Regions from separate parts of the Homo sapiens genome. Here region 2 is linked to region 1. The links come from fine-mapping of genetic effects on gene expression. A gene starts in region 1. The other region holds a variant in brackets. All regions are shown on one strand. Distances are from middle to middle.

Evidence for each region. PIP is the estimated chance that this variant, and not a neighbour inherited with it, causes the effect. A credible set is the group of variants that fine-mapping cannot tell apart.
Region 2: its variant is the best candidate, but not a certain one, in a credible set for the expression of SCO1 in pancreatic islets (PISA, PIP 0.60).

What each region holds. Positions count from the first base shown.
Region 1 is chr17:10,695,412-10,699,806 of GRCh38, forward strand. SCO1 (synthesis of cytochrome C oxidase 1) reads right to left here and starts at 2,122. Exons shown (of 6, transcript NM_004589.4): 1 at 1,824-2,122; 2 at 330-420. The coding sequence starts at 2,096. ADPRM (ADP-ribose/CDP-alcohol diphosphatase, manganese dependent) reads left to right here and starts at 2,183. Exons shown (of 4, transcript NM_020233.5): 1 at 2,183-2,256. RefSeq lists enhancers at 1,099-1,922, 1,923-2,747, 2,041-2,335, 2,051-2,100 and a silencer at 2,221-2,550.
Region 2 is chr17:10,722,253-10,726,647 of GRCh38, forward strand. It overlaps TMEM220 (transmembrane protein 220), which reads right to left. Exons shown (of 6, transcript NM_001004313.3): 3 at 3,952-4,012; 4 at 2,759-2,882; 5 at 1,018-1,077. Among named protein-coding and RNA genes, the nearest start is that of TMEM220-AS1, 5.3 kb to the right of the region's middle. The variant CA/C (reference allele first, on the strand shown) is at 2,327.

The DNA of each region.
Region 1 (4,395 bases):
TAACATTGTTATGCAGTGGTATCCTAGCTTGGATCCTGGAACAAATAAAAGACATTGATAGAAAAACAAGTGAAATCCAAATACAATCTGTAATTTAATAGTTGTGTGCCATTTAAAATTTCTTAGTCATGAAAAATGTGTCATGGTTATACAAGATGTTAATATTAGGGGAAGCTGGGTGAAAGGTATGTAGAACCTATGCTATCTTTGCAATTTTTTGGTAAATCTAAAGTTGTTTCAAAACAAAAAGCTAAAAAACAACAAAAAAGGTGCTAGTCCATAGCCAGGAAGACCTTTATACAGGGCTGAGCAGATGATAATCTACTTACTCTCTGCCTTTTCTTTCTTGACGTGCTTCATTCCAGCCAGTAAAGCTCCTCCAATAGCAAATGTGATTGCTAAAGACTTCCAGGAAACAGGCTACTGGGGCAGGGATTTCAAACATAAAAATTCTAGTAAGATGCAAACATTTAACCATACAAACTTATTAAAGTAGTTTTTAATATACATACACACAGGCCATGATGTTAAATGTGCAAAATGTTTCAGGGATGAGAAAATGCTCAAAGTTTCTGTGGATGCAGTTAGGTCTGGGATCTGAACTACAAAGGCATTCATCTCCAGGGGAAAGTTCCCTAAGTCAGTTCTCTTCATGTAAATAAAAAAAAAAAAAAAAAAAAAAAAAAGCTCAAGTACCACGATTGTTACTATGTGTGACCCTAGCTCCAGTAATGACTTTAAAACCAATTATGGCCGGGCGCGGTGGGTCACGCCTGTAATCCCAGCACTTTGGGAGGCGGAGGCGGGTGGATCACCTGAGGTCGGGAGTTTGAGACCAGCATGGCCAACATGGTGAAACCCCATCTCCACTGAAAATACAAAAATTAGCCGGGCGTGGTAGCGGACCCCTCTAAACCCAGCTACACGGGAGGCTGAGGCAGGAGAATCGCTTGAACCCGGGAGGCGGACGTTGCAGTGGGCCGAGATAGGGCCACTGCACTCCAGCCTGGGCAAAAGAGCAAAACTCCGTCTCAAAACAAAAACCAAAATCCAAAAACACACACACAAAAAACAATTATCTGCTTATGCTGATACTGAGATAAATAGACCAAACGAAATTTGGGAGGTTAACTTAACTCTGGCTTCCAGAAGTAACAATGCCAAAGTAGAAGAGGAATCTAAAAGTGGAGCTTCTTGCAAATTACACCCATTATTTCTTTGTACCCTTATTCAACTCCCCAAATGAAGATGATGTTGGCCAACTAGACTAGGCCTAACTCATTAACCTTCCCGTAGCTCCAAAAACCCACTTCTCTTACCACAGGGTAGTGGCTCTCAAGTTATTTCTGGGTCAGAATTAGAACTCGAGAGAACCCCAAGAAAAAGGCAGATCCACACATAACTAAGTTCCACTTTTTGTTTCAATTTCAACGTATACATGGAACTCTGGATGGGGCTCAAGTGACAAATTATAAAAGTCCTCTGACTTCTCAATCACGGTAAACTTTAGGTTCATACCCTTAAGAAAACCTGAAACTTAATTTTTTTTTTTTTTTTGATGGAAACGCTAACATAAAATCCAAGTCGGGGCATCCAGCCACGTGGAGAGGGTGTAAAGTCTCAAGTTCTCTGTGGAGAACTGGGACTACCCGCAAGGCACGGGAAATGTAGGATGAAATTCCATGACCCAGGTAAGGCGCGCAAGCTAAGGACAACTTTAGGGGAGGCGGAGTAGTGTCTGAGGTTACGACCAAGTGGGATGTGGCCGCTGGGCTGGCCGACAGCCGCGACGAGCACCAGAAGGGTTCCAGGTGTGCACTCACCCCGGGCTTCGAGGGGCGCGTGGAGTCTCCGGGGCCCTTCTGCGACCACGGGGGTGGCGGCCTCGCAGTGCTGAGGGGCCGGGTTCCCAGGCAATAGCCAGGGCGCCCCGAGGCACGCCACGCCTCCGCTTGCCGCGCGCAGAACTGCCTCAGCAAGACTCTCGCAGTCCCCTCGGCTGGGCCCCAAAACTCGAGTCCGCGAGGCAAGAAGCGCCAAAGTTGGCCACCCAGAGGCCGCATAACTCGTCCGGGTACTAGGACCAGCATCGCCATGAGCCTCGGAGACCGGGTCTCCTTTGACCCTCCCCGCGATTTCCGGTAGCGTTCCGCTTCCTCCGGAAGTCGGAAGGAGTCGCTCTGTCCGTCCCGCTCGTTGGTGGCGCTGTTACATAGCCCGTAGTCAGAGGCCTTTCAGCCCAGGGGCCGGCGCACGGTAGGTAGTTCCCTGCGGCTGGAGGCGGGTCTGGCGCGGGCTGGGCGGTGCTGCGGGGCCGCGGGACAGCGGAGCGCCGGGAAGGGGGCTGCCTTAGGGGTCCAGGTGCGCGGCTGGGCCGAGGCAAGGCGGCCCCAAGCGCTGGGGGCCCCCGCTTTGGTCGTGGGCTTCGGTGACCACAGCTAGCTCCTCGCGCCGGGGACACCCCCACCTCGGAAGAGAGAACACACTGCCTAGAGACCCACGGGACTGGGCAGCCCCCATAACCCTACCTTGTCTGGCCGACTTTGTCAACCTCGTCCTGCCGGCCAAGAGGAAGTGCCAGAATGTTGACTCCTTTACATCTTTGAAATAGAAACCGACCCATTGCGATTGAAATAGTCTTTAACTTAAAAAAAATTGCTAATTAGGATAATTTGAGTGGTTAGGGCGGTCTGGAAGAACTTTAAATGCCCAGCGCTTCTAGTTATTTAACATTATAATGTAACCTAATTAATAAAGCATAGCAGTGTGTAAAGAAATATAGACAGCATGATATCCCATCCGTTAACTTAGTCTTCCTGGGTCCCAGTTTCTTAAAATACTCTCACGGACTCCCTTGCTCCCTACAGTTTCGTTATTTGAAGTTTGTTATGGGTTCCTCATCTGGAACTGCTTATGTTCCTTGTTAATGAGGCCAAGAGCATTCGTAGGTTTTTCGTTCTTTGTGAAAGTCTAACTTCATTTCATCTGCCTTTATTTATATCTTAATATCCGCAATATTAACCACTCCCTCCCCGCCCCTACCTCGGTGGTTGCTTTACAAAATACAGAGAAATAAAAAAAGGAAAATCGTCCTCTAATTATCTTCCTTAACTACAGATCCCGCTCCTGTGTGGCTTTTTTTTCCCCCATGGGACCGACTCTGAGTAGGAGAAACTCGTGCTCTGATGATTGTTGGACCAGAGCATGGTTGGTTTGCTTGTTTTCTATGAGTTAGCCAAACTAGCCAACTGTTCTGTTCTCTAACCCAGTAACGGAACATAGTGTTACCTGTGTTTCTTGATTCGCGGTTGGACTAGAATTTTCAGAAATTTCTGCCAAAGTTCTTAAATGTTTGTTCAGCACTTCAAGTCGTTAATCAAACTATTTTTTTCTATCTTATAGTTGCCTGTGGGTAGGATTTTTGCTCTTTTATCTTTGTGTATTTGTTTGCCCAGGGATAATTTTTTCTTGTAATTGACAAAAAGACATAAAAGTACCTTGTGTAGTCAGGCAGATAGCATACAAAATTATTGTTCATCTCTGATTGCCCAATTGTAGGTTACCTGATCAGCCACCCAAATTAAGATTGAAGTCAGTGTTTCTACCTGATCTATTAAATTTTATTTGCTAAAGTGCTTCTTTTAGTAGCAACTTCTTCATATTAATTTTATAATATTAAATAAAATGCTATCATTGAAAACAGTTCTTGGGGCCAGATGTGGTGGCTCACGCCTGTAATCCCATCACTTTGGGAGGCTGAGGTGAGTGGGTCACTGGAGCCTAGGAGTTTGAAGCTGCAGTGAGCTGTGATCGGGCCACTGCCTTCCAGTCTGGGCAACAAAGCAAGACTCTGCCTCTAAAAAATAAATAAAATAAATATAAAATATAGTTCCTGGCTCAAAGTAGGTGTTTTATAACTGCATTTTGGATGAATTGCTAGTAACACCTGAGCCTGATGGCAAGGACCCATGAAACTTTAGTGCCAGAAGGCGCCTACAGTGTTATCCCTTATAGACCTTATCACTTTTATTACTGCTGTGAAACCACCAAAGTCACCAAATGAGGTTTATGTTTTGTTTTCCAAGTTAGATATTTTTCTTTTCTTTCTTTTTTTTTTTTTTTTTTTTTTGAGACAAAGTCTCCCTCTGTCGCCCAAGCTGGAGTGTGCAGTGGTGCGATCTCAGCTCACTGCAACCTCCGCCTCCTGGGTTCAAGCGATTCTCTTGCCTCATCCTCCCGTGTAGCTGGGACTAGAGGTGCGTGCCACCAGGCCTGTCTAATTTAAAAAATATATATATTTTTAGTAGAGACAGTGTTTCACCATGTTAGCTAGGACGGTCTCGATTTCCTGACATCGTGATCTGCCCGCCTCGGCCTCCCAAAGTGCTAGGATTA
Region 2 (4,395 bases), 27 kb after region 1:
CCAAAGTGCTGAGATTACAGGTGTGAGCCACCTCGCCTGGCCTAGAGTTGGGTTTTTAATCTTTTTACATACTTTGAGATTCTTTGACTCTTAACTGAAATCTTTACCTTTACATTTAATGTAATTTCTGATATATTTGGGTTTAAATCTATATCTTAACACATGCTTCCTATTTGTCCTATTGTTTCTGTTTCCCCTTCCCCTTCTCCTGCCTTCTGTACTCATTTTAATGCTACCAGTGGTTACCCTAATGATTACAACATTAATCCTTGACTTATCAAAGTTTAATATAAATGGATACTTTTATCTCTTCTCACACAATTAAAGGACCTTAGAATGCTTAAACTCCATTTACTCTTTTCCAGCTTTTATGCCACTGTTGTCATGTATTTCTATCCTGTATATGTTTAATTAGTTAACATTCATCGATATGTACACACGCACTTATATTGTCTTTGCTCTTCATTCTTTCGTGAATCTCTAAGTTTCCTCCTGAGATCATTTCCCTTCACCCTGAAGAACACCCTTTAGGCTGACAACTGCCCATGACTATACTGGGCCTTGTAGAAAACTACGGTTTTTGTGGACAAGAGTGACCAGGATACTTTAAATCAACTATTATTAACTTCCCTTAAGAAAAGGGAAGATTTCTTTCAAAAGATTCCTGTTTTTACTTGTATGGCAGTATTTTCACTTACTACCTGATTTTGTCAGCCTCGAAGATGTGATTTCTTTTTTTTTTTTTTTTGAGAGAGTGTTGCTCTGTCGCCCAGGCTGGAGTGCAGTGGCACAGTCTTGGCTCACTGCAACCTCTGTCTCCCGGGTTCAAGCGATTCCCCTGCCTCAGCCTCCCAAGTAGCTGGGACTACAGGCGCGTGCCACCACACAGGGCTAATTTTCTGTATTTTAGTAGAGACAGGGTTTGACCATATTGGCCAGGATGGTCTTGATCTCCTGACCTCGTGATCTGCCCGCCTCGGCCTCCCAAAGTGAAGATGTGATGAGTTGAATACTTACTTTGAGGAACTGTGGCACAGGATAATCCATGCTGTAATAATCACCAGACCAGACAGCTCCCTATAAAAGGGTGTACATTTCAGATTTTGGAAGTGGCTACAAGTGAGATGCATATCATCACATTCTCTCCATGACCACCTGATAGCGCATTCTGATTGAGTGACTGACTCTCCCTCAAGATCTATGGCATCGATGGAATATTTTCAAATCTGACCATGATTCATAAATTACTTTTTTCAGAGAATTTAAAGCCTCATATGAAAATACATTTCATCTTAAAAGGCAGGTATGAGATCCCTGACTATGCCCTGATTTATAAGTGGATCCCCCCAAAATGAAATGAATATTTTATAAAATCCACAGATACATCACTTTTTTCAGGTCGCTAGAAGAAACAGTGCAACTAAGAAAATCCCAGATTTGATCAGTCAATACTTTTACATTTTTAAAGAGGCTTCAGTGTGAGGCAGAATGAGCCCAAACCAATACATGATCTGTGTATATACTACAAGAGATTGGGTCACTTCCTAGGGGAGAGGAATGATTTGTAGTACAAATCAGACTAATAATTTGGGGGTGGGTATATGCTTCTATAAATATGTATTATATGCACATATCTTTTACATAGAATAAAAAACAATCACTTCAGCCATAATACCACTAGAAGCCCCAGGCTGAGTTCACTATAACCCATGGGCTTCATGCTGGAAGTGATTCAACCCATTTGGTCTACATTCTTATCTACAGACCCAACCTATAGTTTGGCTCTCCAGTGTTCTAAAGATTGGGGGTTATAACAAAGAAACACCTTTTCAGTGATGTTTAACTTACAGGTCTATGAATTTTGTTGTTGGCAGATGGCAGTAGGAGTAGAAAAGAAACAAAAGGACCTATTAATAAGTCCTCAGAGACAAGGGTGGGAGGAAGCAAAGGAAGAGGTGATAAAATAGGAGCAAGTGGTCATGACAAGGAAATGACACAAGACATACCAGGGCAAGTCTAACAGGTTGACTTAAAGTACTGATCTTTTGGCTGGGTGCGGTGGCTCATGCCTGTAATCCCAGCACTTTGAGAGGCCAAGGAAGGCGGATCACGAGGTCAGGAGTTCAAGACCAGGCTGACCAACGTGATAAAACTCTGTATCTACTAAAAATACAAAAATTAGCTGGCCGTGGTGGCACGCACCTGTAATCCCAGCTACTCAGGAGGCTGAGGCAGAAGAATAGCTTGAACCTGGGAGACGGAAGTTGTAGTGAGCAGAGATCGCGCCACTGCACTCCAGCCTGGGTGACAGAGCAAGACTCCGTTT[CA/C]AAAAAAAAAAAAAAAGGACTGACCTCTGAGATGGCTGCTCATACTTGTAGATAAGATTCTGGCTTAAACCAGAACTGAATTTGAGGCTGACAGAGTTATCACCATATTAGATCGGACTGAGTATTACTGTATCATACCGTTGCTAGTTACAAGGGGGCCAAAGTCCAACGGCCTGACAGTAATATAATGTAATATGTAGTGACTGCCACTAGCAGTGATAATGAAGCCTGATAGATGGGGCTGGGTTTGAATCCTGGCTCCATTATTTCCTCAGTTTCATCAGGTTATAAAGAAGATAATACCTTGCCTCCTCCACAGGGTACACTGGGGGAATTCAGTTATCATTGTGCACAGATGAGGTGTTGCAAACACGATTCCTTAGTTCTATCCCACAGTTCTATCCCTCCACAGGGTAACCGTCACCGCTCACCTGCCTTCTTCCTCATGTAAGATGTTCTGTTGTGTACGATGCAAGAGGTAGGACGCCAAGCCAACAGCCCACACCGTACAAAAGAGTATGTGTATTGCAGAGATACTTTTCCAAATAACATTACCTAAAAATAGATGTTCTGATGTTGTTAACCACGGAATCACAGCCCACAGAAAAAAAAAATGATCTTTTTGTATGTTTTGCCATAGTCTGCTTTCAGAAAAGACATTCAGACTCCCTCAGCCCCATCGCCCCTTTTTGTTTTAGGACAACACAGAGGTCACAGCACTAATTATAAACTTCAGTGGCCATTTCTTGTTTGGGTTGTTCAGCAGCTCCCCTTCCTAGGATGATTACCCTTATTTTCTCTGGGGATCCACCATGTCCACACTCACAGTCCATGTTTCCCAGTGAACTGGACTTTGGCTAGGTCAATCAATACATGTTATCTCCTCAGCCACAGTGATTTGGATCAGCACAAACGGACAAGCAATCAGAGCCAGCAACTGCATTCTGAGACTTTGGTAGAGTGAAGAAACACAGTCCATATTCCACTGGACGTGGCATCGTGAAGATGTGAATGGGGGGCTGCAGGGCCACTGTGTGGAGCCCAAGAGTGAAGTTAGCATGACAGATGGTGGAACTGAGAGGTGGAGAGAAGGTAAAGTTCCGAGTCCACCAGTCTGAAGCCAGCACCACCCTTCACCTTTTCAGTAAACTGTACCAATACCTTTTCTTCTCAGCTCATAGCACATTTGAGTTATTTTCTAGCTTGTATCTAAAGGAGCCCTAACTGATCTACCTTAAAGATGCAGACGGAGTTCTAGCTGCCTATACAAGGAGCCCAGGCATCTAGGGAACTAGAATTTTCCCCACTAAGGTGGGACTCATTAGTCTTTATTCTAAGGCCCCTGAGAACATTCGAGCCCCACTAGGAGAAACTGTTTTAAAGAAAGTGAAGAAGAATCTGTCCTCTCACTTCTATAAAACAGAAGACGCTGTTTTATAGCAGATCCTTCTGACGTTTTCCTGAAGATGGGTAAGGATGATTAGAATTAGCCCCTTTTATTATCAGAAATGAGAAGAAAGGCCTAGAGAGCCCCGTTTTACTCCTGGGAGTTGGGCAGATAGACCCTCATTATTATGAGGAAATCTGATTTGCTGTCTCTCCATTTAGAATGCAAGGCTTATACCTGTGACTTCAGGGTTAAGTCCAACAAGCAGGGTCAGTACTGCAGGGATTGTGTACACCACCTGTTAGCAAAAAGGGAGGAAATTACATGAGTTAAGATGTATGCCCAATATATGAGATGTTCAGAGATACAGGAAGTAAAGAAAGATGAGATCAGTGGCTGCTGTGCCCCATGATTTGCCTCTAAGTTTCAATGGTGATTGAGAAAGTGGTAGATTCTCCTTTTGTGGCACTTAGCACGTCTGCCTGCAATTTTATCTACCTTCCTCCTAGACTATAGGCTATTCCAGAAGCTCATTTATCTTTGAGCTCTAACACTGAGCACAGGGTTTTGGTCTTAAGACACACTAACTTTCCAGTCGCTCCCAAGCAACTTTCATGCCCAAATGGCCTTTCCCCACTTGCATAAAAGAAAATGTTCTTTGAAAAGTAGGGCAGGAGCAGC